Regions from separate parts of the Homo sapiens genome. Here region 2 is linked to region 1. The links come from fine-mapping of genetic effects on gene expression. Tissue or cell type: whole blood. Region 1 holds a variant in brackets; the other region holds the start of a gene. All regions are shown on one strand. Distances are from middle to middle. Region 1 overlaps PRKCB (protein kinase C beta). Region 2 holds the start of PRKCB (protein kinase C beta).

The links. PIP is the estimated chance that this variant, and not a neighbour inherited with it, causes the effect.
Region 2: it holds the start of PRKCB, and the variant in region 1 is fine-mapped to the expression of PRKCB in whole blood (TOPMed, PIP 0.92).

The regions. Positions count from the first base shown.
Region 1 is chr16:23,876,413-23,888,698 of GRCh38, forward strand. The region is part of intron 2 of PRKCB (protein kinase C beta); the gene reads left to right. Among named protein-coding and RNA genes, the nearest start is that of PRKCB, 47 kb to the left of the region's middle. RefSeq lists an enhancer at 5,380-5,509. The variant T/A (reference allele first, on the strand shown) is at 5,154.
Region 2 is chr16:23,829,063-23,841,348 of GRCh38, forward strand. PRKCB (protein kinase C beta) reads left to right here and starts at 6,921. Exons shown (of 17, transcript NM_002738.7): 1 at 6,921-7,286; 2 at 8,313-8,344. The coding sequence starts at 7,114. RefSeq lists silencers at 6,417-7,056, 7,087-7,166, 7,497-7,576 and enhancers at 6,530-7,077, 7,078-7,623, 7,887-8,026.

The sequences.
Region 1 (12,286 bases):
AAACTCCAGGGATATATTCCACATCACACTTCCCCCGTCCACCAGATTAGCAACTGTCCAAGGACAAAACAAAACACACACTAAAAAGGAAATGGGGTTAGTCCGATATGTCTCCATCTCCTTATGCTGGTTCTTTTGTCTGCAGAAGCCACGGTTTCTTTTTCTTTTTGAAAAAAAAAAATGACATTTGCGTACCTCTCTGCGTTTCTCTTTCTCCAGGATTCTTCTGGGATCCTAGGCAGTGTGGTTTGGTGATCTCACTGGTGAGATCTCTTGGAGCCCTGGAATGCAATTCATCTGGGCCAGAAGAGTTGAACTAATTTAAGGACATCTGAGTGCTTCACTGATGTATTTGTTCTGCTCTGTCCCTTCAAAATACCACTACTCAAAACAATGTTCAGCTGGAGAAAGTGGTTAACACTGGAATTTTCTTTTTTTCTGAGACCTAAGTGACAGGGAAGGGTGGATGAAGGAAACATATCCTTTGAAAATCCTTTAGTTAGAATCCTTTGGTTGCAAGTAACATAAATGAACTCTGATTAATGTAAGCAAAAAAGAATTTGTTAGAAGGATATGGGGGGGGAGGGATGGACAGAGATGTGAAGGAAAAGATGAAGAACCAGGCTTTAGAAAGTCCTGAAACCAAATGAATTCTAGGGATCTAGGAAGCAGGGACTAATGACTGTTTCCTTCAGGACACCAGAGATGGGGTGAATAACTCTGTAAAAGATGCAAATTTCCCACCTGGGTAACATAGTGAGACCCTGTCCTTAAAAAAAAACAGTAGCCAGGCACAGTGCCTGTAGTCCCAGCTATGTGGAGGCTGAGGCAGAAGGATCACTTAAGCCCAGGAGCTCAAGACTGCAGTGAGCTATGATGGCACTGCTGCACCCCAGCCTGGGCAGCAGAGGGAGACCCTGTCTCTTAAAAAACAAATGCTAAATTTTAGAGAGAATAGAGAGAATCTTTTCTTAAAAAGGTGCTAAGTCTGGGGAAGGAGCTTCTGATTGTCCTGCCTTGAGTCACACGACCATCTCTGACTTGTTGACCCCTCTACAATCCCATATAAGACTCCCCAAGAGTAGATTCTGAGCAGGTAAAGCCCATGGGTGTTCCCAAAAGTCGGCCTCAACCTGAAGCCACTTATTCACTCTGAGCTCATCACCAATGGCATGCCGCACTGTCAAAACTCTCTTTCTGTGCATTTGTCTGGGCCACTCAACTCAGGAAAGTTAGTTGTTCTGTGTGAGTCCCCATGTTCTCACTGATTTCATTTCAGTCTTTAAGCTAAAAATCTGTGTAAATGGTAATGGAGAATGGCTACATCACACTTAGTATGTGTCAAAGCAGTATCCTAAGTGCCTTAGTGGTATCAGCTTATTTAAGACTGACAGTACTCTGAGGTGCAGTCACTTCTTTTTTTTTTTTTCCTTTTTTTCAAAACAGAGTCTCACTCCGTCATCCACACTGGAGTGCAGTGGCATGATCTCGGCTCACCGCAACCTCCGCCTCCCAGGGTCAGGTGATTCTCATGCCTCAGCCTCCTGAGTAGTTGGGACTACAGGCATGCACCACCACTCCTGGCTAATTTTTGCATTTTTAGTAGAGATGGGGTTTCACCACGTTGGCCAGGCCGGTCTTGAACTCCTGACCTCAGGTGATCCACCCACCTGGGCCTCCCAAAGTGCTGTAATTACAGGCGTGAGCCACCGCACCCGGCCTGTCACTTCTTGTCATTCACAGTAGTTATGTTCTGTAAAGTCACTGCAAACACTGAATTAATAAACACTGAACCATTGTTCCTAGGTGAAATACAAAGTTGGGTTCCTGTGAGCCTTTGGTCACAGCATTTTCATCCACTGATCAACCCGTAAGCTTATTCTGTGTGTGTTTCTGTTTAAAGACACCTTAATATATATTGTTGACTCATTAACATCTAACTCACTGCCAACAGCACTCCAACTCGTGCCTGATCAAAGCTTATATAACACACGCATGACACATCTCGGACTCCTTGCACTTAGGAACACCAGATAGCACTTCACCATTACCCTATGGGACCATTTTACAGCAACGTCACCCTCAAAAAGCAGAAAAATGGGAAAAAGCATGCTGCTAATATACCACAGAGAGAATGCTTGTTTACAGCATGAGAGCTGAAGTCTGAAGGTAGAACATGGTTTTGTTCATCCTCAGCTGGGAACACATGTTGGCTGACTCAAATATTTTGCCACTCCGTACATGTCCGTGAGTGATCATGAAAGAACCTTGAGTATGGATTTGGCGGTTATAAATAAATTTTAGCAAGAGGTGAATTTGCAAATAATGAGGATTGACTATAACCCCTGTTATTAGCTCTAGTTAACAGATGGGGGAATGGAGGTAAACAGCTCTCTGCAGGTCTTGCAGCCAGGGAGTGTAGAGGAGGCTTTGTCATTCTGGGTGCACAGCCTGCGTCCTTAAGAGGCAATGTAGTGTTGGCTGGGTGTGGTGGTGGTTCATGCTGTAATCCTAGCACTTTGGGAGGCTGGGGTGGGTGGATTACTTGAGGTTAGGAGTTCAAGACCAGGCTGGCCAACATGGTGAAACCCCGTCTCTACTAAAAATACAAAAAAATCAGTGGGGCGTGGTGGCACGCGCCTGTAATCCCAGCTACTCAGGAGGTTGAGGCAGGAGAATCACTTGAACTTGGGACGCGGAGGTTGCAGTGAGCTGAGAGCGTGTCACTGCACTCCAGCCTGGGCGACAGAATGAGACTCCATCTCAAAAAAAAAAAGAGGCAGTGTAGTGGTTGAGTGCAGTGTAGCTCCTGCTGAGAGCTGGTTTTCATGTTTTGTGGGCACACAGGAAGTAGAGAATGCTGAGAGCTGGGCACTGAAGCAGTAGGAGATATGGGAGTGGGAAAGTGGTTTTCTTTAGTAAGTCTGGGCTGTTTTCATAGCCTAGGATGAAGTTCAGCAATACTCAACCTTGAGGTTTTCCAGGCACCTTCTCCTTGACATGAATCTCCTGCAAACAGATGTCATAGTAATCTGGGAATAAACCTTTGTTGTTGGTCCTTTAGCTATCCTTTTTTTTTTTTTTTTTTTTTTTTTTTTTTTTTTTTGAGACGGAGCCCCACTGTTGCCAGGAGTGCAGAAGCATGATCTCAGCTCACTGCAACCTCCGCCTCCCCAGTTCAAGTGATTCTCCAGCCTAGGCCTCCCGAGTAGCTGGGATTACAGGCATGCACCACCATGCCTGGCTAAGTTTTGTATTTTTAGTAGAGACGGGGTTTCACCATGTTGGCTAGGCTGGTCTCGAGCTCCTGACCTCAAGTGATCCGCCCGCCTCGACCTTTCAAAGTGTTGGGATTATAGGCGTGAGCCACTGAGCCCGGTGCCCTGGTCCTTTAGCTTTCTAAGACAGCAGCATAGTAGTTCAGAGCATAGGCTCTTGGGCCATAGCTTCCTGAGTTCGAATCCTAGCTCTGCTGTTTTTTAAACTCTGTGACCTTGGGCAAGTCTTAACCTCTCTGTGCCTCAGTTTTCTTGTCTGCAAAATGGGATTAATAAAAACACCGATCTCATAGGATTGTTGTGAAAATCGAGTGAGTATGTTTATAGTGTTTAGGAAAGTTCCTGGTACACAAGACATGCTCTGAAAGTGTATTAATATTATTTGTCCTTAGACTCAGTAGTACTCTGGGGGAATCGAATCCCCACCCCTAAGCCAGGCAGCATGGTAGAAGCTAGGTCAGCTGGCAGGCTCCTGGGTCTTTTCCATTCTGCTGCAGGAGATGCCTGACTCACCTCTTGTGCTCACACAGATGACAGCTAAATAGAAGGGCTCTTTCCTCCTAGTATTAGCTTAATTATAGGGGCTCCCTAGAACAGTGGGGAAAATGAGCTTTGAGAATCCCCCCACCACACACACAAGGCCCACACTAGCACCTGAAAGAGGAGTGAACATTGCTTCCTGCCTCCTTCTCCCCCTCCTTCTCACATATGCCTTTGTCTCTGTGATTCTGCACGTTTAATTTTTAATCCCGGGATGGGTTCTATTAGTTTTTGTGTATTTTCTCTGCCCTGGTTTGAGCTCCAAAAGGTCTGTTTGGGTCTCTGTGGGTGTCTGACAGCCTCTGCAGGCCTTTCTGAATTATATAACTCAAGCTTTGTATTTTCTATTTGTTACTGGGGGTTCTTTCTGTGCTATAATTTTACTCTTAGAAAATGAAGTAGGGTACTAGAATTTTCTCTGGGATCCCCTAGGGTTTCCTTCTGAATATTTTTTCCTGCCATATTTTCTTCGCTAAAACATTTTTTTTTCTTATTTCAGAAGCAATACATCTTCATTATAGAACATTACAACAAGATGCAGAGAAAGAAAATAATCTTATCAAGCAGAAATGTTAATACCTTGCTATCTACCCATGTCTCTCTGTCTCTGTCTCCTCAAACACACACAAATGGGGTCAAGATGACATAAGAGACTATCTGCTTTTCAATTCACATTTTACGATCTTTTTTTTTGTATGGTTCTGTAGTCTCCACTGCTTGGCTTGACGATCTTTAACAGGTGCCCTCCGGATGGTCATGGGGGTATTTTCCATTTCTCACTGTTACAAGCAGTGCTCTGATGAAACACCTTTTGCTGGCATTCCTAATTATGTCCTGAGAGCAGACTTCTAGAAGTTTTCAGCAGTGAGGTTAAAGGGAATGTTTGCCTCTCCTCTTCACTCTGTGATGCTCCTGGGGGCCCAGGCCCATGAGTCTCTGTGTCCATCTTCCCAAGATGAAAGACAAAGAATGGGCAGAGCATTGACAGGGCCCTGTGTTGACTCCTTTTCTCTCTTTTCCCAGTTTTTTTTTTTTTTTTTGAGACAGAGTCTCGCTCTGTTGCCCAGGCTGAAGTGCGGTGGCGCGGTCTTGGTTCACTGCTACATTTGCCTCCCAGGTTCAAGCAATTCTCCCGCCTCAGCCTCCCAAGTAGTTGGGATTACAGGCACTCACCACCACACCCAGCTAATTTTGTATTTTTAGGAGAGACGGGGTTTCATCATGTTGCCCAGGCTGGTCTTGAACTCCTAGCCTCAAGTGATCCACTCACCTTGGCCTCCCAAAGTGCTGGGATTACAGGCGTGAGCCACTGCACCCTGGCCCATTCCCGTTTTT[T/A]AAAAAAATATTTTATTCCTTTTAGACTATTTAGCCACAGTTTTCCATTCTATTCCTTGGGATAAGTGAAAACTTGATTTTTAAAAAATAATTACAAAATTTTAAAATCATGGTAAAAAACACATAACATAAAATTTACCATCTTAACTATTTTTTTAAGTGTACAGTATCATTTTAAGTACATTTACATTGTTGTGCAACAGTTAGGACTTTTCATCTCGTAAAACTGAAACTCTATACCCACTGGCAATAACTTCCCATTTCTTCCTCCCCACCGAGCCTCTGGTAACCACCATTCTGCTTCCTGTTTCTATGAGTTTGGCTATTTTAGATGCCTCATGTAAGTGGACTCTTGCAGTATTTGTCTTTTCATGGCTGGTTTCTTCCTTTTTTTCTTTTCCTTTCTTTCTTTCTTTCTTTCTTTCTTTCTTTCTTTCTTTCTTTCTTTCTTTCTTTCTTCCTTCCTTCCTTCCTTCCTTCCTTCCTTCCTTCTTCCTTTCCTTTCTTTCTTTCCTTTTTTTTTTTTTTTGACAGGGTCTCCCTGTTTCTCGCAGGCCAGGCTGGAGTGCAGTGGGGCAATCACAGCTCATGGCAGCCTTGACCTCCTGTGCTCAAGGGATCCTCCCATCTCAGCCTCCTGAGTAACTGGGACTTCAGGCACACACTACCATGCCCGGTTAATTTTTTTCTTGATTTTTAATAGAGACAAGGTCTTGCTATGTTGCCCAGGGTTGTCTCAAACTCCTGGCCTCAAGAGATCCTCCCATCTCAGCCTCCTGAGTAGCTGGGATTACAGGTGCACACTACCATGCCCAGTTAATTTTTTTTCTTGATTTTTAATAGAGACAAGGTTCTTGCTATGTTGCCCAGGCTGGTCTCAAACTCCTGGCCTCAAGTGATCCTCCCACCTCAGCCTCTCAAGGTGAAGGGATGAGCCTCCCAAAGTGAAGGCGTGAGCCATTGCTCCTGGGATGACTGGTTTATTTCACTTAGTGTAATGCCCTCAGAGTTCATTCATGTTGTAGCATATGTCAGAATTTTCTTCCTCTTTAAGGTTGATTAATATTCCATTGTATGAATAGGCAACATTTTGCTTATATATTAATCGGTCAATGGACATTTGAGTTGCTTTCACCTCTTGGCTATTGTGAATAATGCTGTTGTGAACATGGGTATACAAATATCTTTTTTTTTTTTTTTTTTGTAGAGATGGGGTCTCCCTATGTTGGCCAGGCTTGTCTCAAACTCCTTGGCCCAAGCAATCCTCCTACCTCAGCCTCCCAAAGTGCTGAGATTACAGGTGTGAACTACTGCACCTGGCTGAGACTCCACTTCCAATTCTTTTGGATATAGATCCTGAAGTGGAATTGCTGATGGTAGAAACTGTCTCGGGAAGATTTTTCTGGGGATTTGGCTTCTAACTGCACCACAGCTCCAGTGGAAACATCTATTCATTAAACTGGCATTTATTGAGGACCAGCTTTGTTCCAGTCACTGAACAAGGCTGGGGGCATAGCGTGGCTTACATAGGTCCCCACCCTCCATGGAGCTGATATTCAGCAAGAAGCCAGACAATACACAGGTAAGCAAATTGAAAAAAACAGGATGAGATCCACTGGCGATAAATGTCATGATACTGAATCAGGATTTGACAACAGAGTGATGTGGTGAGTGGCTACTTTAGATCAGAAAGGCCTTCCTAACTGGGTGACAGGTGACCTGAGAACTACAAGGTGGGGAGGAGCTAGCCACACAGAATTTGGGAAAATACCATTCTGGGCCCTGGGATGAGCAATGGAAAGGTCTTGAGGAGGAAAGTGGCTAGGCGTGATCCTTGTTGCTGGGGCGTGGTGGGTGTGGGGCCAGATCATAAGGGGCCCCACAGGATGAGCCTCTGTGCTAAGTGCAGTGGGAAGCCACTGGAGAGTTTTAGGTAGGCGAGATGCAAAGGATCAGATTTGTATTTAACACACCTTCCATTGGCTGCCAAGTAGAGAATGGATTGTTGGGGACTGGAGCAGAAGTGGGAGGATGAGTCAGGAGTCAATTGCAGATTTCTAGGTGAGAGATGGTGTCTTTGTCTGCACGGGCAGCAGTGCAGAGGGAGAGACACAGGCAGATTTGGGAGGTAAAAGGACTTACTGGTAAATGGGATATGAATTGGAAGAGGGAAGCAAATGCACAGCTGGGCACCTGGTACACTTTACATATGACGTCTTTGAACTTCGTAGCAATCCCATAACCACATTTTGTAGATCTGTGTTGTCCAGTAGAAATATAACATGAGCCATAAACCTGAGCTGTGTATGTAATTTAAAATGTTCTTAGCAATCACATTAAAATGGTCAAAGGAAACAGGTGAAATGAACTGTGAGAATGTTTTCTTTAACTCAGCATATTCCAAATATTCCCATATCAACATGTAATCAATATAAAATTATTAATGAGATATTTTACTTCCCCGCATAGCAAGTCTTCAACATTTGATATGTATTTTACACGTACAGCACATCTCAATTCAACCACACTTCAAGTACTCAGTAGCCACATATGGCTAGTGGTTACCATATTGGTAGCACAGTTATAGATGAGGAAAGAGAGTCTCAGAGAGTATAAGTTCTTATGCAAGCTTATAGAATTAGGACTTGAACCCTAATTTGACTCTGGCACCCGTGTTGTGCTCAAAGCACTGCATCCACCCCCAATGATGAAGACATTTTCAATGTAAGCAAAAGTCCTGGAGATTTCCCCACATCATATACATGGGGACATAGGAACTAACATTTGTCATATATTTATATTTTCCTTTCCAAAGCAGATCAACCCCAAGTTACCTTCCCTTAGCTCTCGTTTTCTGCCTCTCTTTGCAAATATCACTTCATTAAAAATTGTGAACATTCTCTTTGCCTTCCCTTATGGGCTTCCTGTTTGAACACCACATCCAGGGCACCCTGGGAACTGAACCATCTCCTTTTCTTTTTCTTTTTGAGTCAGGGTTTCACTCTGTCGCCTAGACTGGAATGCAGTGGTGTGACCGTAGCTCACTGCAGCTTCAATCTCTTGGCCTAAAACAATCCTCCCACCTCAGCCTCCTAAGTAGCTGGGACTACAGGAACACACCACCATGCCTGGCTAATTTTTTTATTTTTATTTTTTGTAGCTGCAAGGTCTCACTGTGTTGCCCAGACTGGTCTCAAACTCCTGGACTCAAGCAGTCCTCCCACCTCAGCCTCCCAAAGTGCTAGGATGACAGGTGTGAGCCACAATGCCTAGCCCATATCTCCTTTTCTTTTGTGGCATTCTAGTAGCCCTTTGGTTCATGCGATCATTTAGTTGTTCAGCAAATATGGATGATTGAATGGATATAATAGGTGCAGGGCACTCCCAGGTTCTCAAGATGGATGATCTTGGGCAAGTTATTTAATTTCTCTGGATTTTAGTTTCCTTGCCAGCAAACTCAAGATAATAGTAATGCCTACTTTTAAGTAGTTATTGTGAAGATTATAAGGAATTAACAATAACGATAATAATAAGTAATAATGATACATGTTGTTTATTAGAGCCTGCTATATGCCAGACACTAACTCTATGATTTAACCTTCTCCTGCTACCCTTTACTCTTATTATTTCTTTAGGAGTGAAATTCACTAATCATTAAGCTTTTTAACTAACTGAATCAATTCTGTTTCTTAAGCAGATGGGAGATCCTGTGGCTTTTTACCACTATCCACAGCTCTTTTTTTCTTTTTCTTTTCTTTTTTGAGACGGAGTCTTGCTCTGTCACCCAGGCTGGAGTGCAGTGGCATGATCTCGGCTCACTGCAGTCTCCGCCTCCCTAGTTCAAGCCATTCTCCTGCCTCAGCCTCCCGAGTAGCTGAGGTTATAGGCGCCCGCCACCACGCCCAGCTAATTTTTGTATTTTTAGTAGAGATGGGGTTTCACCATCTTGGCCAGGCTGGTCTCAAACTCCTGACCTAGTGATCTACCTGCCTTGGCCTCCCAAAGTGCTGGGATTACAGGCATGAGCCACTGTGCCTGGCCTATCCACAGCTGGTTTCCCCTCTTTGCCCCCTTTTCTGGCATTCTCTTCTGATTCACTCTCAACTCTGATTTCCAAGCTACCCAGCTCCTTCCCCTAGTGTGAATCTGTATTTGCACTGGATTTATTTTTAAATGGGAAATGAAAGCCACTGTGTGCTGGAAAATATATATTTCAGACACGAGGAAGCTGGCGGGGAAATATTTTTTGGATGTCTTTCTAGATCTCTTAAAAATCCTGTGAGCCATCACCAGGTTGATCTTGTAGTAAGGTGGCCTTGGCCTTAGTGTATTTCTTTTTGACTCGATATTGGGCGGCAGGAGGTTTGAGGATTGTGATACTAACAACATTAACAACAACAAACTTTCATTGATTGATTGCCATGTGCTGGAAATGTGCTAATAAATTACATTTATTTTCTCTTTGAATCCTCAAACCAACTCTTTGAGACAAGTGTGTTGTATTACAGCTGTAGAAACTGAGGTCCTAAGAGGTCAGTAGATTTGCTGAAGGTCACAGAGCTGAGATCCAAATCTAAGCATCACAGCAAGAAGTATCCTTAACCATCATCTTTGCTGTTGGTTGGCATTAGTCTGGCTGTGCTAAGAAAGTTTCCTTTGACTTGCAGATGGATCAAGGCTTTTCTTGAGAGAGGCTTCTCTTGCCTGGTTCTCCTTGATTCTTTTACTCTAGGAGACTCAGTTCTTCTCAAATCCCTGTCTGTGGGACTTTGGGCAAAACATTCAACGTCATCTTTACCTCTTAGAGTCACTGCGAGGGTTGGACTATGGTGTGTTAGGTGTTTTTTTTTTTTTTTTTTTTTTTTTTGATGAAGTCTCACTCTGTCGCCCAGGCTGGAGTGCAATGGCATGATCTTGGCTCACTGCAACCTCCGCCTCCTGGGTTCAACCGATTCTTCTGCCTCAGCCTCCTGAGTAGCTGGGATTACAGGCACGCACCACCACGCCTGACTAATTTTTGTATTTTTAGTAGAGACGAGGTTTCACTATGTTGGCCAGGCTGGTCTCGAACTCCTGACCTCAAGTGATCGGCCTGCCTTGGCCTCCCGAAGTGCTGGGATTACAGGCGTGAGCCACCGTGCCCAGCCGTGTTATGAGTTGAACAGATTTCTTGGCTTCAGCAGGGGCTCAGTATGGGCCTATCATCATTTTCATTTATCTCCTTTTATGCCTCATGCTCTATCTGTCCCCTTCATCTCTGCCTGTAGCAGCCACAGACCCTCTCTTTCCTTGGTGCATGTCCCTCCTTCCCACTTTCCTAATTTCAGCCTGACTTAGTTCTCTACCTGTCAGCTTGGACTTAAGGAAAGGAAGTTCTCTTTTCTTGGGGGGTCACTGGGGCCATGGGCGTCTTTCCACTCCATTTCTTTTCCAAAGCTGCCTCTGGAACGAATCTGTAAATCCCAGGGCATTGCATGAGTTTTCTTTTCTTTCTTTCCTTCTTTCTTTCTCTCTCTTTCTTTCCTTCTTGCTTTCTTGCTTTCTTTCTTGCTTTCTTGCTTTCTGTCACTGAAAGCAAATATTGTAGACAGATATGCTTGTAGGATAGAAATAAAATGCCCCATTCTTTGAAACATATTTTGTTTTTTATTTTAGATTCATGGAGTATGTGTGCAAGTTTGTCACATGGGTATATTGCGTGATGCTGAGGTTTAGGCAATGAACTTGTTACCCAAATAGTGAGCATAGTACCCAGTAGGTAGTTTTTAAACCGTTACCCCCTTCTCTCCCTCCTTTCCGAGTTCCCAGTGTCTGTTGTTTCCATATTTGTGTCTGTGTATACCCCTTGTTTAGCTTCCACTATAGGTGAGAACATGTGGTATTTGGTTTTCTGTTTTTCTGTGATAATTCACTTAGGATAATGGCCTTCAGCTGCATCCATGTTGCTGCAAAGGACATGATTTCATTTTTTTTATGGCTGTGTAGTATTCCATAGTGTATATGCACCACATTTTCTTTATCCAATCCATTGTTGATGGGCACCTAGGTGGATTCCATGTTTTTGCTGTTATGGACAGTGATGCAATAAACATGAGAGTGAAGGTGTCTTTTTGGTGGAATGATGTGTTTTCCTTTGGGTATATACCCAGTAATGGGAATGCTGGATTGAATGGCAATTCTATTTTTAGTTCTTTGAGAAGTCTCTAAACTGCTTCCCAGAGGGGCTGAACTAATTTACAATTTCACCAACAGTGTAAGAGCGTCCTTTTTTCTCCGTAATCTCACCAAGGCACTGCATAAGCTATCTGAGTGGCCAGCAGGCAGAATGCTTGAAGGATTCTCCAGCTGGGGGTGCTGGGCCCAAAGGCTGGCAGCTGTATGGTCCTGGCCTTTTTCTCTCCAGCAGGGTCCCCATGATCTTCCCAGGTCTAGTTTTTTCTTGAGCACACCTGCATCTGACAGTTAATTGCAAGAATCTGACTTGCTGAACTCTCATTTCTCCCTCCTCCTTTAGCGCATCAAGTCCCCTTCTTTGTTTTCCCAGCTTGGTTCTTGCAAGGACTACCTAGAGGAGGACTTCAGGCAATCCCTTTCTCCCTGGTGGGCTGCTGTGTTCTCACCAATAAATCAATGCTCTCTCTAGTTTCAGGCTGCCTCTTAGGACAGATGCTGATACCAAGTGACTTTTGAGGTTGTTGAGTTGAGACACTTGGACCAAACAGCGGAAGGCACAGCTTGGCTCAGCTAAAGGAAGCTCCGTGAAAGCTCTCTGAGTGGGCCTATTGGCTCCATGAGTTGGCAGGCTGGCCCTCCTCTAGGAGATGGTGGGTCCTCATGGGCTGTAGCAGGGCCAGGCCACAGGAGCAGACTGCTGGAGGAGAACATTTAGGGCCATCTTCCTTGCTGCCTTTCTGTGATCTCTTCACCCAGGAAGCTGAATGCTGTTGGCAAGCAAAAGGGTGCTTGGTAACCATTTCTTTTTTAAGTGTGTGCTGGTGCCAGGGAGGGAGAAATCCTCAAAACCCATTGTGTCTGACTCAGGCACCACTGGTTTGGCCATAACCGCTAGTTTATCCTCCCTCCCTCTGCCACCCTCGTCATGTTTCTCGACCACAACCTGTCTGGACCTTCCC
Region 2 (12,286 bases), 47 kb before region 1:
AGGTTCATACATGTTGTAGCATGTGTCAGAATTTTCTTCTTTTTGAGGCTGAATAATATTTCATTGTATGTATATGCTACATTTTGCTTATCTTTTCATGTTTTAGCTACTGTGACTAATGCTGCTGTCAACATGGGTACAAATATTTCTTTCAGACCCTGCTTTCACATTTTTTAATTTCAACCTATTTGTGTCTTTGGATCTAAAGTAGGATCTCTTTATTATTTATTTCTTTATTTATTTTTGAGATGGAGTCTTGCTGTGTCACCCAGGCTGAAGTGCAGTGGCTTGATCTCGGCTCATTGCAAAGTCCACCTACCAGGGTCAAGTGATTCTCCTGCCTCAGCCTCTGTAGTAGCTGGGATTATAGGTGCCCACCACCACGCCTGGCTATTTTTTTTTGTGTTTTTAGTAGAATGAGGTTTCACTACGTTAGCCAGCCTGGTCTTGAACTCCTGATCTCAGGTGATCTGCCTGCCCTGGCCTCCCAAAGTGCTGAGATTACAGGTGTGAGCAACCATGCCTGGCCTAAGGTGAGTTCTCTTGTTGTAGACAGCATATAGTTAGGTCGCATTTTTGAAAATCTATTCTGCCAATCTCTGTCTTTTGATTTGAGAGTTTAATCCATTTACATTTAAAGTAATTACTGAGAATGAGAGACTTACTTTTCTCATTTTGATATTTGTTTTTTATATAACTTATAGCTTTTCTTGTTCTTCTTTTCCTGCATTGCTATCTTATTTTGTGGTTAGCTGATTTTTTTTTTTTTTTTTGCAGTGAAATGTTTTAATTCCCTTCTCATTCCCTTGTGTGTATATTCTATAATTATTTTCTATGTTGTTACCATGGGGATTACATTAAAATCCTAAAGTCAGAATATTCTAATTTGAATTCATACCAACTTAACTTTAATAACATACAAAATCTCTGCTTCTAATACCTCTGTCCCCATCCCTTTCAGTTATTAATGTCATAAAATTACATCTTCATACATTGTGCACCCAAAAACATAAAGTAGTAATTTTAAATAATGCATTAGTCTCTTAAATCACGGAGAAAACAGTAAGTGGATTTTATGATGATATTAGCTTTTATAATTGCCCATGTATTTACTTTTACTGAAATATTTATTTCTTTACATTGCTTCAAGACACTGTCCAGTGCACTTTGATTTCAACCTGCTGGACTTCCTTTAGTTTAGTATTTCTTGCATGGCAGCTCTAGTGGTGACAAACTCAGCTTTTGCTTATGTGGGGATGTCTTAATTTCTCTCACTTTTGAAGGACGGTTTTGACAGTTAGAGAATTTTGGGTTGATTATTTTTTCTTTTAGCATTTTGAATGCATCAGCCCACTACCTTCTAACTGCTGAAGTTCTGATAAGAATCTGCAGATAATCTTATTGAGGATCCCTTGTATATGATGAGTCACTTCTCTCTTACACTTTAAAGATTCTCTTTTTGTCTTTGGCTTCAGACAGTCTGATTATAATGTCTTGGTGTGGGTCTTTTTGAGTTATTCCTACTTGAAGTTTGCTGAGCTTCTTGGATGTTTATATTCATGTCTTTTATCAAACTTGGGGAGTTTCTGGCCATTATTTCTTCAAATAAGCTCTCAAATAATTCTCCTTTCTCTTTCTCTTTTTCTGAAATTCCCATGGTACGCTGTTGGTTTGCTTGATTGTGTCCCACAAGTGTTTCAGGCTTTGTTCACTTTTTTCAATCATTTTTCTTTTCGTTCTTCAGACTCAATAATTTCAATTGTCCTATATTTAAATTTGTGCATTCTTTTTTCTGCTTGCTTAAATCTGCCTTTGAAACCATTTAGTGATTTTTAAATTTCATTTATTGTATTTTCACCTCTAGAATTTCTTTTTGGTTTCTTTTTGGGTTTTCTATTTTTTTATTGACATTTCTGTTATGTTTATGCATTTTTTTAACTTTCTCCATGTCTTCCTTTAGTTCTTTGAGCATCTTCAATATAGTTGCTTTAAAGCCATTGTCTAGTAGGCTCACCTTCTGATCATTCTCTGGGACAGTTTCTGTTGGTTTATTTTTTCCCTTTGAAGGGGCCATACTCCCCTCTCTCCCTTCCTCTCTCCCTGCCTTCCTGCCTTCCTTCCCCTCTATCTCTTTCCTTCTTTCTCCCCCTGTCTCTCTTCCTGTCTTTCTTTTTTGAGATAAGGTCTCACTCTGTCACCCAAACTGGAGTGTGGTGGCACAATCATGGCTCACTGCAACCCCCAACTCTCAGGTTCAAATGATCCTCCTGCCTCAGCCTCCTGAGTAGCTGGGACTACAGGTGTGGACTACCTGTCTGGCTAATTAAAAAAAAGTTTTTGTGGAGATGGGGTCTCACTATATTGCCTCAACTGGTCTCAAACTCCTAGACTCAAGTAGTCTTCCCACCTTGGCTTCCCAAAGTGGAGGCATAAGCCTCCACCACACCTAGCCTTTTCTTGTTTCTTACTATAGGTTTTTAGTTACAATTAGTAGCAGTTCTAAGTGATCTTGAGAGTTGCCACATTTCAAATGCTCAGCAGCCACATGTGGGTACTGTGACAACTGTGTTGAAGAGTGCAGCCTTAGAACAAAGGGATTGAGGCCGAGCGCGGTGGCTCATGCCTGTAATCCCAGCACTTTGGGAGGCTGAGGCGGGTGGATCACCTGAGGTCAGAAATTTCAGACCAGCCTGGCCAACATGGTGAAACCCTGTCTCTACTAAAAATACAAAAATTAGCTGTGCACGGTGGTGCACGCCTGTAATCCCAGCTACTTGGGAGGCCGAGGCAGGAGAATGGGTTGAACCTGGGAGGCGGAAGTTGCAGTGAGCCGAGGTCGCATCACTCCACTCCAGCCTGGGTGACAGAGCAAGACTCTGTCTCAAAAAAAACCAAAACCAAAACAAAACAAAACAAAAAACAAAAGAATAAAGGGGTTGAGAGGCAAACTACTGTATCCTTGTCCTACCTTAGAGAAGAGGAAAATGAGACACAGGAGGAAGTAAGTGACTTGCCCAGGGTTATGCACTGTAGTCATTTAAATGGTAGCCCCCAAGAAGGTACATCCATGTTATAATTCCTGGAACTTGTGAATGTCATTTTATTTGGCGAAGGGGTCTTTGCAGGCATAACTATATTAAGGATTTTGAGATGAAGAGATCATCTCGGATTATCCAGTGAAGCCCTAAATCCAAGGACCAGTGTTCATATAAAAGATATACAAGGTATAGGGCCAGTGCAGTGGCTCACGCCTGTAATCCTAGCACTTTGGGAGGCTGAAGGCAGGCAGATCACCTGAGGTCAGGAGTTTGAGACCAGCCTGGCCAACATGGTGAAACCCTGTCTCTACTAAAAGTACAAAGATTAGCCGGGCATGGTGGCGGGTGCCTGTAATCCCAGCTACTTGGGAGGCTGAGGCAGGAAAATCACTTGAACCCGGGAGGCAGAGACTGCAGTGAGCCGAGACCATGCCATTTCACTCCAGCCTGGGCAACAAGAGCAAAACTCCATCTTGGAAAAAAAAAAAAAAGAAAAGAAAAAAGAGATATACAGGGGATATTAGAGAAACAGAAGGGGTGAAGATAGGCACACAGAGGAGAGGGTGATATAAAGACAGAGGAGGATGGGAGCGATGTGACCACAAGCCAGGGAAGCCAGGGAATGCTGACAGCCTCCAGAAGCCACAAAAGGCAAGGAAGCGTTCCCCTCTGAAACCTCCAGAGGGAATGTGGCCCTGCTGACACTGTGACTTATGGTTTCTGGCCTCCAGAATGATGAGAGAATAAATTTTTGTTATTTCTAGCCACCCTGTTCTGTTATAATTTTTTATGGCAGCCACAGGTCTGGAGCAAAGGGACCTTGGACTCCATTCTCAGCCACAGCAACCTGCCCCCTCACTGCCTCTGAAATCTTTCAAGTGACCAGCATTCACTCCTTCATGAGCAGAGTGGGCCTGGGGGGCTCTGGTGGCAAGGAGGACCCATGCCCAATCTACGGGGAGCTGCTGCCCTGCAGCTCCTGTTGGCACTATGCCATGTTGCCCTAATCTCTTGCCTGATCTGCTCAGTTGACCTCTTCACTGCTCTTCCTGCCTCCACCCTTTCTCCTCTAATTTCCACATAGTAGCTAGGGTAAGCTTTTAAAATGAAAACCCCATAAGTTGTATCAGGCCACTCCTCAGCTTCCAACCCTCCAATGGCTTCCATTCACTGGAGTGAAATCCAAACTCCTTATCACATTTGCAAAGCCCTTTGGGGCCCTGCTACCTCCCTGACCTCATCTCATAAGTCCTCTCTCCTCTCTGTTCATCCAACCACTGAGGCCTTCTCGCTATTTCTCCAACATACCAAGCTTGATACTCCCCTAGGCTCTTTGCATTTTCTGTTTTCTCTGTCTGGAAACTCTCGATAGTCCCCTGGCTCACCCTCTCACTTTATTCAGGCCTTACTCAGATGTCCCCATATTATAAAGGATTTCCCTGTGGTCTTTATAATAATGCTTTATTTTTATTTACAAACATTCTATTATACACCACCAGGTATGGATTCGTTAGTTGGTTAGGTTATTACTCCCCCTTCCCCATTAGACTATAAGCTCCACTAGGGCAGGGACCTTTGTCTGGTTTGTTTAACAGTATCTGGAACAGCACACAGTAGGTGCTTAATAAGCAATTTGTTGATTGAAAGAACAAATGTATGAGTGAGGGAGGAATGTAGGCTCCATTTAGCTCTATCTTTTTTCCTAGATAAGTCAGAATCTGGATATTTAAGTAAAATTCTATGACCCGTGAACTTAAAAAACAACAACAACAACAACAACCCACTGGGCTAGCTTAAAAAAAATAGAGCATCTGGAGCCACCAGTTTGAGACCCTGACCTACAGGAATCTGGGTCCAATGGGAACCACATTTCTCATCCTCACTTGGTGCAACGCCTTCAGGAACCAAGTGGCTCTTTTCCATCCACAGCCCTTGCATCCCCAGGCCCCGGCGCCATGAGGTACTGTTTGTTGTTACAGACCAAAGTCATCCAGGGCACTTCATTCAAAAGGCAGGATGTGGGCTGTGAGCTTCCAGCTCATCAGTTCAAAGGAAATCTACTTCAGCAGCAATGTCTCCTGGGATGTTTTCCCAAGCCTCCCTGGGAGGTGGTGGGGCCTCTTCAAGGACTAATAATAGACAGGCACATCCAGTTTCCCAAACATGTCAACCTTAAAAGTGAATGCTATTTTTTCCTCCTTACCTTTGAATTACTATGTAGGAGAGGGACATTCTATTATTGCAGCCCTTGCTCTCGACATGCTACCTAATAATGACTTACCACTCAGCAGCTTCCAGGCAAAATTGTCATAGTGGGACCTGAGCTCGTGCAACTCCAGCCTGCCCCCCTTCATCCACCACTACTCAGGTTCACCCCTTTGTCACCAGGATGCTTTGTAGTCAGGCCAGCCCAATCACCATTCAGCAACGGTATGACTGTGGGTGTATCTTAATCACTCTGAACCTCCCCATCCTTATCCATAATGAAAGTTACCAGATCTACATAGGGTTGTTGCGGGGGCTAAATAAGACAGCACAAGTACCTGATGCCCAGCAATCACTTGATATTTATTATTAAACACCTACTGGGTGTGAGTGGGGGTAAGAAGTGCCGACCTTTAAGTCTTCATTCATTCACTTGTTCATCCATGCCCTCACTCAATCAACCAATATTTACTGGGGTCTTGGGAGGTGTCAGGCACTGAGCTTGGTGCTGGGCGACATGGTGGTGAACAGCCCCCCTGCTCTCACAGAGCCTAGGTCTGGTGAAGGAGCTCACAGCCTAATGAAGCTCTGCGTTCCCAGAGTGGGGGACATGGTGGCAGTGGGTATCTTTAGGCCTTGTGCATGAACAGGGCGCTAAATAACATTGAATTACACATTGTAGACAATTATTACCCTTTCAGTTACCTTCAGATCACATCAAGGAGAGAGTCCTGGTTGGATAGTAATGTCTTTAACACCCCTCTAGCATTTATTAATTTCCTCTCTTAACAAATAAAAGATGACTTCAGTCGAAGATGCTTAGGACAGATGACGGCACCTGGAGATATTTTAATAATGTAGATACCTCTTGCTGTTCAAACTCAGACCAAAAGAGATAGGCTTTTTTTCCCCCAGAGGGTGCACAAATACGACCAGAATTTGTGAAGACGAGTCAGAAATGAATGAAATTTGGAAAAATATTGATCTACTGAAATCCTTCCTCCCCACACTATTAGCCCTATGTTACAGTTGGGGAAACGGAGTCGTTTTGCAGAGGGGATGGACAGAAGGTAGGGAGTTCTCTTCCAAACGTGCAGGAGGCAAGCAAAGCCAAGAATCTTCTCTGTGGTGGAGTTAGAGACATATAAAATAAAGATCGCTCCTCCCCTACCTCTGCAGAACGTGTGTGTGTATGTGTGTGTAAGTGTGTGCGGCCACAAGCCTTTCCGAATGAGTGACAGCGGGAGCCCATCCCTCCAGGAGACGCGTGCAGAATGACCAATGGGATGGATGGGGGTGGATGGGTACCAGTCTCCGCAGAGGCCGGGGTGGAATTCGCTGCGCCCCACCCCTTCCACCCGCTCCCCTTCGCCCCGTAGGTCTTTCCACTCTCGCTCCTCCCCTGGGCACATCTCCTGAACGCAGCCCCGGGGGCCGAGGACGGGGTGGGGTGGGGGGCGAGGCTCGGGTCCGACGACCCCGGGCTGCGGTCCCGGCGCTGCAGAGCTGCGGCTGTGCACGCTTAGCCGCGAGGCCCGCGGTAGCCCGGGCGCCGATATGTAAAGCAGCTGGCAGCGCTGGGCGGGGCCTGGGCGCGATGCAAATGAGGAGGGCGGGGCTGGCCCGGGGCTCCGCCTCCCTCCCCCGCAGCTGGGGCCAGCGGTGCCAAGCGCAGCTGGACGAGCGGCAGCAGCTGGGCGAGTGACAGCCCCGGCTCCGCGCGCCGCGGCCGCCAGAGCCGGCGCAGGGGAAGCGCCCGCGGCCCCGGGTGCAGCAGCGGCCGCCGCCTCCCGCGCCTCCCCGGCCCGCAGCCCGCGGTCCCGCGGCCCCGGGGCCGGCACCTCTCGGGCTCCGGCTCCCCGCGCGCAAGATGGCTGACCCGGCTGCGGGGCCGCCGCCGAGCGAGGGCGAGGAGAGCACCGTGCGCTTCGCCCGCAAAGGCGCCCTCCGGCAGAAGAACGTGCATGAGGTCAAGAACCACAAATTCACCGCCCGCTTCTTCAAGCAGCCCACCTTCTGCAGCCACTGCACCGACTTCATCTGGTGAGCGCGCGCGCGCAGGGCACCTTCCCGGGCCCCCGAGGGCAGCGCCGCGCCAGGGACCCCCTCTCCGCGCCCTCTGCGCCCTCCGCGCCCTCCGCACCCTGGGACCCCGCGTCTCCGGACTCCCGGCTCCGGACCCTGCTGCCCGGGACTCCCGGATGGACAGTCCTGCCGTTGCCCTGTCCCCACCCTGGTCCCAGACGGGCCGCCGCGGGGCGCCTCCTGCCCTCTCCTGCTCTCAGGCGCCTCTAGAGCGCCCAGGGGCGGCGTCGCGGGAGCCTTTGCTCCACCTGACTAGGAGCGCGCGGGGTCTGTGCCTGCCCTGGAGGGCAGCGCCTCGGGTGCTCTCCGACCCGGGGTTCCCTATCTCTCCGCCTGCTTCCGGGCGCGAGGAGCCCTCGCCCCCCACCCCTTGTTTCCGGGGGGGGCGGCGCCCTGGGTGTCCTTCTCTATCTCCCTGCGGGCATGGGACATCCTTTCTCACTCCTCTGTGCCTCCGGGCAGCGCCCTGTGTTATCTCCCATTGCCCCTCCCCGAGGGCCTGGGTTCCCCTTTCCACTCCTCGGTCACATCACTGCGGGCCCCTTTCTTCCCCAGTCCCTCCAGTAGTGGGGCATCCTTTCCTCCTTCCCAGTCCCCCTCCCAGAGGACACCACCGCCGCGGGGTCACTCTCGCCCTCCCTCTGAATGCGTCTTTATCTCTTCTCTTTTCCCGAGGGTGCTCGGGGCATCTATGGGTACATCTGTCGCCTGCCTTCAGCCCCTACCCCGACGGAAACGCTCCCCACTATCCCGCCACCTGGTGGTCGCAGCCTCCTCTCTTCTGCAGGAGTGAAGGCAGATGGGGGTTACAGCCGAGCTCCCACCTACCCCCACAAAGGCGGAAGACTCTTGGGCACCCGCCTGTGGCTGGGAGTTTGCACCTGGGGTACAGAGGCAGGGAGGAAGGCGGGTGACTCTGTGGGTAACTAGCTGGAGGCTGGGCCCCCCGGGCTGCCTGACATACACCTCCTTCTGCTTTTGCAGGGGCTTCGGGAAGCAGGGATTCCAGTGCCAAGGTAGGCTCTGGGGCTTTGGGGATGCTATTTGTGGGAAGAGAGGGTGAAAAATACTTTATAGAAGAAGTTACTGAGTTAGGCAGAGAGTGAAAGAATCACGTTGGTCGGAGTGACCTCCCAGGCTAGGAATTCTTCACCACAACAGGGTCCTTTCAAGGGGTGTGTGTGTGACTGGGGCCGATGGCGCTTGGGAGTCTTACATGCCAAGGAAGTTCACCTACCCTTCCTGCCTTCCCGGCTCTGGAAGAGTCAAAGCGGTCTCCTGAAGCAATCCTGGCATGGTCAGTTCCGCTGGGGGAGAAAGTGTTTTCCCGGGACGTTTCTGGGAGAACCTGTCCTCCTTAGTTCCCCTTTCTCTGCCCATGTCCCTTCCTTATCTCACCCAGGGAGGTTCTGCCTCTCCCTGCCTTGCAGAGGTCTCTGCAGGTGGCTGCCGCTCCTCTGCAGATGGTGCATCCCCTAGAAAGGCGACTGTGTTTGTCGCCTGGGCCTCCTCTCTCTCTGAAAGAAGTATTTCCAGAGGGAGTGTTTCTCAGATCCTGGTTTAAATCACCCTATCTTCTGGGTTGAAACAGAAAGGTCTCCAGGGCACTGGTTACCTGAGTTCTTGCATCTGGCTTGAGATCCTGGACTCTAACCAGGGGTATCAAACCTGCTGGTGGTGAGTTGATCACGTGTAAAGTGTCCCCCTCCCCCGTCTTTGGGGCTCATGTCTAAAAGACAGATTGCAAATTGGCTCTCCAGGACCAAAAGTTACCCGCAGCTCTGTGTAGCCCTTAGGGTGTCTTACTTGTGAATTTGATGTGAACGTTTTAGAACTGGGAGATTTCACATACACATCCTAATTTCCAACTTTAACTTTGCTGAGAAATGGTCTCACTTTCGCTTGAAAACAATCGTTTGGAGCTGAGAGCCGTCGTCGTAGATGGGGAACAGCCTTACCATTTTGTCTCAGTTGATCCCAGTGGGGAACACTTCACCCATTTCTGGCCCCTGTGGGCATTTAAGTTTGCAACCTCTCATCTGGAAAGTTTGTGTGTTATGTTTTCTTTTTAATTTAAATTTTAATTTTTCACTCTTGGGCTTGGTAAGATTGAGTTTGGTAAGAAACGGCACATTTCTGGGGTATTGTATCTTTAGGGGCAAAGTGACCACCACCCTGGTGAGCTGGGTTTAAATCAAAAGAAAGTATTTGAGTGTGGAAGAGTCTGACGTGATTTAGCACTGACTGACAGTTTTGTGGCTGCACCTCCACCCTCCAGGGAAAAGTAAAGTGATCCCTAGTGAGTGTAGGTGGCATCGTCAGTGGTGCAGAATGTTTGCTTGCTGGCAGCATGGCACTGTGCTCCTCTGAGACTCTTGCATACTCTTCTGAGATCGGGGTCCCGGTGGGCTCAGTGAGCCCTGCCAACCTACCCAGCCTGTCTTACCAAGATTTGGATCCTCTGCACCACACCAGAGGACTCCTCAAGTCTCTTTAAGTGGCAACAACTTAGGCCCTGGTGCAAACAAATTTGGATTGTTTTCTAGAACTTTGACCCCTCAAACAAAATGCCAATGGTGTCTTGGCACCGGAATGTGTAATTTCTTCTTTGAGGTTGCCTTTCACTTCCATGAATCAGTTTCAGTCTTTGTCTCTTGCTGAGATCGGGGGCGATTTTTAAACATTTTTACCACGGATCTTCTATGCCACCTGCTCTGCTGTTATTGATGGATGGGAAAGTCACTTTGGAATGTGCAAGGCATGACACATTTGAAATAGGAGATCCTTTAACTCAAAGTCTGGAAGATAATAGGAATTTTCTGATGTTAAGAGAAAAAGGCAGAATTAAAGTTTGTAATGAAATATGGGCGCTCTAGAGATAGGAGTGTCTTTTTTTTTTTTTTGACAGGGTCTCACTCTTTTGCCCCGGCTGGAGTACAGTGGTATGATCAGAGCTCACTGCAGCCTCAAACTCATGGGCTCAAGTGATCCTCCTGCATCAGCCTCCTGATTAATTGGGACTACAAGTACGCACCACCATGCCTGGCTAATTTTAAAACAACTTTTGTAGAGAAGGGGTCTTGTGATGTTGCAAGACTGGTCTTGAACTCCTGGCTTCAAGCAACCCTCCCACCTCAGCCCCCAAGTGTTGGGATTATAGGTGTGAGCCACTATGCCCCTCTGGAGTGTCTATTTTTTAAATTGCCTTTCTTTTTCTCTTCCCTGCCTCCCCACCAAGAGGCAGCGTAGAGAAGTGGGCATTTGCACAGGCTACCAGGCAAGTCCCTGTCGGTCTGAATCCTAGCTTTGAGACTTCCCAGGCATATTACTTAGCCTCTCTGTATTTCAGCCTCCTTGTCTATAAAACGGAGTCAGTAACAGTACCATAGTGTGGCTGAGCAGCTCCAACTCATTGCAATATCCAAGATTCTTGGACCAGAGCTTGACACAGAGTATGCTCAGAAAATATCTGCTCTTATGATTGTCCCCAGACTACCCCAATGGTGGGGCAGCTGGCACGAGAGAAGACTGGCTCTGCAGGGTTGCTTTGCTATGGAACTGCCTGCCAGGTAAGAGTCAAAACTCAGCCATGAACTTCTGGTCACTCTGTGTAGCTGCTTTGACAGCATATTCCATTTGGGCAGCAGTAGGGAGGAGTGAGGGGAGGGGCAGATTGGCAGTCCCTGAAATTGAGATGTTTAGAATGGGAACATATAGGAAAGAGGGAAATTTATCCCTGGTACTCAGCATTGCCTGGGACTAATTCTGGAACCACTGAGGAGTTCCTTAGTATCTGATTGTTCTTGGTATCAGATATTTCCTCTGAAAGTAAATCCACTTACGATGGAATCAACAGTTTATACAAAACACATAAGGTTTTATGATCTCACTTAAGTCAGCAATCCAGAGCCCAGGGCCTCAGGTTCCTTTGAGTTTTCTGCTCCACTATCCCTGGGGAGTGACAATTATCTCATGGTCCAAAAAGGATGCTAGACGCTGGAGTCCTCACACCCTTCTTTCAGCTAGCAGGAAGGAAGAAAGGGGTAAAGAAGGGCATATAGCACATGCTCGGTGTCACTTGTTTAAGTTGCTCAAGATCCTTCTACCTACATCCTCTTAGCTAGGGTTTAATCACATACCCACACCTTGCTGTGAGGGAGCATGTGGGAAATGTAGTGTTTATTTCAGGCAGCCACTATTTAGAGGATGTTTCCATTTCAAAAATACAAGCAGAGAGAGGATGTTGTCTCTGCCACTCTGGTAGGAGGTGTGTAGGATGATCGCAAGGCAAAGAAACCATTGAGAGTAACCTTCAGGCTCTATTACATTGTCATGGAAATTGGGGACACTGCTATGGGTTGGGAGAGGAAGGATGGAAAACTCATAAACCTTGGGAAATTATGGATTTCTGTGTGCTCAGGGGAGCTTAAGAATAGATTTTCTTGCTTTCGTATGATGATAGGACGAAACTCTAGGTTGACTGCCTCATAATTTCTCCCTTTTTGTTTCCACTCTGTCTATTTCTTATAAAACCACTCTCTGGGAGGTAATTTAAGAATGTGTTTGATGACAGGGAACTGGGGCTGAAGATCCCTATTGTAAAATTGCCTAAATTCTAGAGTAGAAGTGGAACTCCTTTGACAAGCAAGGCAGATTTCTCTCTATGGCATTTTTTTCTTTGCCTTTTATTTATTTATTTATTTATTGAGACAGAGTCTCACTCTGTTGCCCAGGCTGCAGTGCAGTGGCACCATTTCGACTCACGGTAACCTCCATCTCCTGGGGCTCAAGCGATTCTTCTGCCTCAGCCTCCCAGGTTGCTGGGATTACGGGGGCCTGCCACCACGCCTGGCTAATTTTTGTATTTTTAGTAGAGATGGGGTTTCATCATTTTGGCCAGGCTGGTCTTGAACTCCTGACCTCAGGTGATCCACCCGCCTCGGACTCCCAAAGTGTTC